Linked DNA regions of Homo sapiens. Each later gene encodes a partner of the first gene's protein in a complex. Each region holds a gene or a part of one and is shown on either strand. Other genes may lie near its edges.

Evidence for each region. The genes of interacting proteins can lie anywhere in the genome.
Region 2: CYFIP2 (region 1) and BRK1 share a complex: the UniProt entries of both Homo sapiens proteins name them as parts of the WAVE1 complex.

What each region holds. Positions count from the first base shown.
Region 1 is NC_000005.10:157,318,123-157,321,622, reverse strand, and holds part of CYFIP2 (cytoplasmic FMR1-interacting protein 2), read right to left. Parts: intron 1,862-3,500; coding exon 1,695-1,861; intron 969-1,694; coding exon 821-968; intron 1-820. UniProt on the Homo sapiens protein: Involved in T-cell adhesion and p53/TP53-dependent induction of apoptosis. Does not bind RNA. As component of the WAVE1 complex, required for BDNF-NTRK2 endocytic trafficking and signaling from early endosomes.
Region 2 is NC_000003.12:10,118,675-10,122,174, reverse strand, and holds part of BRK1 (protein BRICK1), read right to left. Parts: intron 1-3,500. UniProt on the Homo sapiens protein: Involved in regulation of actin and microtubule organization. Part of a WAVE complex that activates the Arp2/3 complex. As component of the WAVE1 complex, required for BDNF-NTRK2 endocytic trafficking and signaling from early endosomes.

The DNA.
Region 1 (3,500 bases):
GACCCTTAAACTTGCAATGAGAACCATCTGCTTTTTCCAGTACATCAAAAATATTACCAGAAACTACCTATCCTTAAGTAGGTAGCAGGGATTTAACGAAGATGCCCAGATTATTGACTTTTTTTTCTGTAACGTTATGACTGCTCTGGATAAGCCACGGGCGACCTCTTGTGCAGAAGCTCTGGCTGGCAACTCTGAGTGTTTCCAAATACTAGACTTCCTCTAAGGGGACAAGGGCTTTCAATACTTGCACTTTTGGAAGGATGTGGAACTAAGGAATATTTTGTTAGTAACACAATCTCATCCAAAGTTTTCATTTTACAGAGAAGATAATCAGAGCTCAGAAAGCTCAAGGTGCTTGCCCAAGATCACACAGCAAGTCAGAGGCAGAACTTTTAGGGGAAAGGGCCAGGACTTATTAAAGAGGGGCAGCATAGATGCATGCAGATAGATTCCACTTTAACCTCCTCCTCCACTTTGGAATCTATACTTCATAGGACTAGAAGATAGCCAGGCAAGGTGGATGTGGTGGTATTATCCCCATTAGCCAGTTTAAACAACTGAGGCACAGAGAGATCTGTAAAGTGCCCGAGGTCACACAGGTATCTAGGACTAGAATCCAGGTCTCCTGAATCTTAAGCCAGTGGTCCTCCTTCCTATATCAAAACAAGATGGCAGAATAAGACCGGAGCAGCCACTCAACCCTGCCCCTCCTGACCGACGGCTCCCAGTCCCACTGCCCATGGCCAGCCATGATGATCTACCATAGCCCGGCTGGCCTCTGAGTCAACGCAGCTGGCCTGTGCCTGGAGCCGCTTACCTGTGTGCTGGATGGCCCCACAGCACGCCGGGGCACCTTGATATCAAATCCACCTTTGGGGTCCTTCTCCCCTCTCAAGCATGGGTCATTAGGGGGCTCTCGCCCTCCCTCCCAGTCACAGATGGTCTTTCGAATTGCCTGTAGGACGCTGGGGAAGGAAGAACTAAGACTTAGACCAGGTTTCACCATGGGAAAACGTCACTACAAGCTTGTGTTTCTAGGGCCCGTGGTGTCCCAGGAACACCCACATTTGAATTCTTGGGGTGCTTGTAAAGCATGCTCATTTCTGCCCCAATTCCAAAACTCTGGTTTAACAGATTTAAGGTACAGTCCAGGAATCTGTGTTTAAACAAGTGTCCTACATGGTTCTGATGTCCAAGGGATGTCTGAGAACTCAGCTCTGAGCCCATCGAGTGAGACAGAACTTGTGTGAGGCAAGAGGTCTGTATTTCCTTTCTGGTTATAGGGGAGTCTCACCGGTCTTATGAAATCTGTGTGTGCTTAGTTTTCATAATAGCTTAGATGTGCTGCATACTTACTCCATGCTGCATGTGCTTAGGTCTATATATGGACCATCTCATTTCATCATCCCAACAGGCAGCAGGTAGCATTATAATCCCCATTTTACAAATGAGGAAAACTGAGGTTTGGAGAAGGTCAGCAACCTGACCAAGTTCACACAGCTAGATAGCAGTGGATATGGACTTCTAGAGATGAAGGCTTAATTCATCCCAAATGCCCAATCTCCTAAAGAGCCCTCTGGAGCTTGCTGGAAGGACCCATGTGTGTTCAGTGGCTGAGCCAGGACATCCTCTCTGATGGGTACCTGGCATGCTTATGTCTGATATGCTCCTGAAGGCATCTGAAAACCCACCTGATGAGGACATTCTTCTTCTTCCGTACCGCCTGCCGCAGGGGCTCACGCAGCGTCACCTGGGCGAAGTCCTGCAATGCCGCGTAGATGGTGTTCCTGATGGCCTGGTTGAAGACGCTCTCCATCCTGCCCATGAGCACCTGCAGGCCTTTGATCATGGCGATCACCTGGGCAGGAAGAGGCCAAGGGTCATGTTCACCATGTCCAGCACACCAGCTGTCTACTACCCATCACCGCCCTGCCAGGGGAGGCGGGGAGTGAGATGTCCAGAGGCATGAGGCCAGTGCTACTCAAAGTGCCAGCGCATGGCTAGGTAAGAGATGTGTGCCAGAATGTACGTATATCAGCACTTGGCTTCATTCATTGAGAAAGTCTTGCTACAAAACACAAATGTCAGCTCAACTAACAGCATTCTTCGCAATGCAACTGATTTTCATCCTCGCATGAGCTCCCAATTTTGTTGTTCACTGCTGACAAATAGCAGCTGGCCCATGGGCCACAATTTGAGCATTTTGAGAAGTGCCTTGGCTTTTGAAGGCCTCTCCATAGACCAGGCACTCACAGACAACATCAAATAGAACTTTTTTAACATAAAATTTTCTAAAGAATTTTTACAACCTTTGTTTTTGAAACCGTTTGGCCAGTTGCTGCTTGAGTTTATAAAATCAAAACTTCTCCTGCAGAAGTCATGGGGGAGAATGCCTCTACTCCCCTATTTCCCTTCTCCTTACCCTAACTCACTTATCTGTTTGGAGAGATGGGGATTCAGGCACGTGTGATGAGAGGAGCCTGGCCTGACCTTGGCTCGCTCTTTTGGGACCTGCCTGCCTGCAAGTATGTGGCCTCCCTTCTAGGTTTCTGGCTGCTTCTTGCAGTAACCATCCCCTGCCCATCCCGAGGAAGGGAGGCGTGTATCTATGCAGCTGCTTTGCCTATTACCTAGTGGCAAGTTTAATGAGATGTAGGAGGCATAGGAACACTGGTGTGGCCTTGGGTGAAAACCACATTCTCTAGTCTAGCTTTACCAGCAGTAAGTCTGAGCCTTTGACTCCATTGGCCTCTAATATTAATTTCTCAATTGATTCAGAATTCAGAGGGAAAGGCATGTGGCAGATCGTCCACCTCACAACTGCCACACAGATCACACCCATAATGGCATGTTCCACCTTCTACACCAGACTGGAAATACACAGGACAGGGCCCAGCTATGCTGTGCACGCCCAACTGCCAGTGTCTGGGTCCATGGTGGGCAGACACATTTTCTGTTGAAAAGGAACAAATAAATGAATGAATGAGCTCAGACCCTAAGGCTGTTTTTTTCTCTAAAACTTAAAGGAAGAAAAAGAACATTTTTAGATAGAACTGGTATGAAAACAACTCAGGAGGTGATGGTTTTCATTGGCACCAACAGTACAACAATTTTGTTGGTGATGAGCTTTAGTGCAGAGAAATAATGGGAGAGAAGCATTAGAGGACTGTTAGATCATAACAGAATCTGGGCCCCTGGCTACAGATATAACTAGGAGACATTAGGAAAAAGGAAGGAGTAAATAATGAAGATGTCTCAGAATGGCTCCAAATACAGAGGAGTGGGCAGGCCTGTTGGATCTAAAGGAAAAATCTTTACAACTCTAGACAAGGCAAAGATTTCTTAGCTGAAACCCCCAAATCACTAACCACCAAATAACTGACAAATTGGACTTCATCAAAATTAAAAACAGCTGCTCTTCAAAAGGCACCCTTAAAAAATGAAAAGGCAAAGTCACTGATGAGAAAAAATATTTGCGACATATATTTGACTGAAGA
Region 2 (3,500 bases), on another chromosome or scaffold:
GAGGCGGGCGGATCACCTGAGGTCGGAGTTCAAGACAAACCTGACCAACATGGAGAAACCCCATACCTACTAAAAATACAAAAAAAAAAGAAATCCTGTCTCTACTAAAAATACAAAATTAGCTAAGCATGGTGGCGCACACCTGTAATCCCAGCTACTCTGGAGGCTGAGGCAGGAGAATGGTTTAAACCCAGGAGGCGGAGGTTGCAGAGAGTCAAGACTGCACCACTGCACTCCAGCCTGGGCAACAGAGCGAGACTCCATCTCAAAAAAAAAAAAAAAAAAAAAAAAAGTGGCCGGGTGCAGAGGCTCACGCCTGTAATCCCAGCACTTTGGGAAGCCGAGGTGGGTGGATCACCTGAGGCAGTGAGCCGAGATTGCACCATTGCACTCCAGCCTGGACAACAAGAGTGAAACTCTGTCTTAAAAAAAAAAAAAGTTTGAGGAATATTTAATGAAATAGGAAAATATTCATGTTACGAAACCAAATGATATTTATGTACTTGTAATTTACAATTTATTTACATGTCTGTTTCACCGTTAGAACAAGTTAATCAAAAGAAGTACATATTGCCTCTTGTAACCTTAGCATCTTGCCTGGTACATAGATGTTGACTGAAAAAAAAAAGATGGATTCTGGTATATTAGTGGAACAAAAGATTGACTCTAGTGTAACTCTATTCACCTTACAAGTGGGAAAACTGAGGTCTAGGTAAGCTGAGGGCCCATGTTGGGTCACTGGTATTCTTTCCCATACTGTGTGCATCCCAATGCACACTACTATCATCTTTCTGTGCCTCCGGGGCTATAATTTATACCCCAGGTCTCCAGCCCAACTCTGCCACTTTCCATTCTTTCACCTGCTTAAAGTATACAATTCAGTGGTTTTTAGTATACTTACAGAGTTGTGCAATAATTATAATCTACTTTTAGAATATTTTCATCATCCCCAAAAGATACCTTATACCTCTTAGTCCTGTCACTCCCCATTCTGTCACCCCTCAGTCCCTGGGAACCACTAATCTTTGTCTCTATGGATTTGCCATTTCTGGACATTCTTCATTCTTTTTACGCTTGTGCTGCTTGAATTCCCAGGTCTAGCTTAAGTATGATCACTTCAGCATCCCCCTTTTCCTGGATGTACTGCCACTTTCTGTCGGAACTGCCCAACAGGACCAAGCCTCTTTTCAGTCTGGTTTTTGGAAGTCTGAAAGCACGTTATGTATGCTACTGAGTAAGAGCATGAATATTATCTCTGACAACCTGCCATTTCCCATGAAGACATACGAAAATTATTGGGGGAGGTAGGAGAGAGGGAAGTTTCCTTCCTGGGTGGCTATTCTGTTCTAGCTGTCAATCTGGTAATGAATTAGAATTCAAGAACAATACTATGCTCCTGGCCTACATGGATAAACACTGTTGAGAAATAGAAAATGTTCAACTGCAGAAACCTTGGTCATATTTCAAATCCTAATAAGTATACGCTGGTTCAAATAAAAAACACTGAGAAAGCATTCAGCAGCTGGATAAATCTGAAACCAGAGCACAAGTATGTGTACATTATCACCAGCCTTTAACTGAAAATACCAGTTCTCGTTAGGAAACAAATGCTGTTATCAGACAGCTCCTTCTCTGAACTTAATGCATATAACTTCAGCATTACAAAAATCAATACTGTCAGGCCGGGCACGGTGGTTCACACCTGTAATCCCAGCACTTTGGGAGGCTGAGGTGGGCAGATCACTTGAGGTCAGGAGTTTGAGACCAGCCTGGCTAACATGGCAAAACCCCATCTCTACTACTAATACAAAAAGTAGCTGGGCATGGTTGTGTGTGCCTGTAATCCCAGCTATTTGGGAGGCTGAGGCAGGAGAATCAGTTGAACCCAAGAGGCAGAGGTTGCAGTGAGTCAAGATTGCACCACTGTACTCAAGCCTGGGCAACACAGCAAGACTCCATCTTAAAAAAAAAAAAAGAATTAGCCAGGCGTGGTGGCGCATGCCTGTAGTCCCAGCTACTCAGGAGGCTGAGGCAGAAGAATCGCTTGAACCCGGGAGGCGGAGGTTGCAGTGAGCCGAGATTGCACCACTGCACTCCAGCCTGGGCGACAGAATGAGACTCTGTCTCAAAAAAAAAACAAAAACTGTCTTTCTTTTGGAATGTTTTTGTAGTTAAGTCTTACTTTTCCAGCAAAATTCTGAATGTCTTAGGAGTGGGTATCATACCCATTTATTCATATTTATTCCTTTCTCACAGCATCTGACACACACCAGGCATGCTACATTTGTTGGCTCAGTACAAAAACCAAGATTTTAAAAAAACAGCCACATTCTCTATTTTGTCTTTATACTTCTCTGCATATATTACCTTTAGAACCAGAAAAAAATAGCATAAGAATAAAAAGCGATAATCTCTAACCATCTATTTTTAGAAACTTCACCAATTCCAAAGTGCAAAATAGGCCTAGTGTTATGATATTTTTGCTACATTACGATTTGTATGTCCTCAAGTTCACGTGGGAGACTGTGACTCTACTCTCACCAGCAGGAATCACAAGGTAAATGCTTTTCAGAAAGTCATTCACTATCTTAGAACAACAGTTCTCTCTCCAAAATACATGGCCCATGCAGATTCTCTGTGGTCAGGGTAAGGACTACAGAATTGCTAACATATTTGAAGAACTTCAGATGCTCCCTCAAAGTAAATTCTTTTTCTTTGAGAGAGAGTCTCACTCTGTCACCCAGGCTGGAGTACAGTGGCACGATCTTGGCTCACTGCAACCTTTGCCTCCAGGGTTCAAGTGATTCTCATGCCTCAGCCTCCCAGGTAGCTTGGAATTACAGGCATGAGACACCATGCCTGGCTAATTTTTGTATTTTTTATAGAGATGGGGTTTCGCCATATTGGCCAGGCTGGTCTCAAACTCCTGAGCTCAAGTGATTCACCTGCCTCGGCCTCCCAAAGTGCTGGGATTATAGGCATGAGCCACTGTGCCTGGCCTCAAAGTAAATTCTTTTTTTTTTTTTTTTTTGAGATGGAGTCTTGCTCTTTCGCCCAGGCAGGAGTGCAGTGGCGCGAGTGCAGAGCTTGCAGTGAGCCGAGATCGCACCACTGCACTCCAGGCAACAGAACAAGACTCCGTCTCAAAAAAACAAACAAAACAAACAAACAAAAAAAACCATTAGGAAAAGGAAATATATTTACTATTCATTAAATGGCAGTGGATCATCATAAAGGTCTTCATCCTCATTGTCTTCCTGCTGAGTAGGCTGAGGAAGAAGGGGAAGAAGAGAGGTTGGTTTTGCTACCTCATGGGTGGCAGAGGTGGAAGGGGAGGCAGGAGAGGTAGGCATACTGTATAACTTTTATCGCAATAAATCCACTTATGGCCAGGCACAGTGGCTCATGCCTGTAATCCCAGCACTTTGGGAGGTTGAACAGAGGTGGATCACTTGAGGCCAGGAGTTCAAGAGCAGCATGGCCAACATGGCGAATCCTGT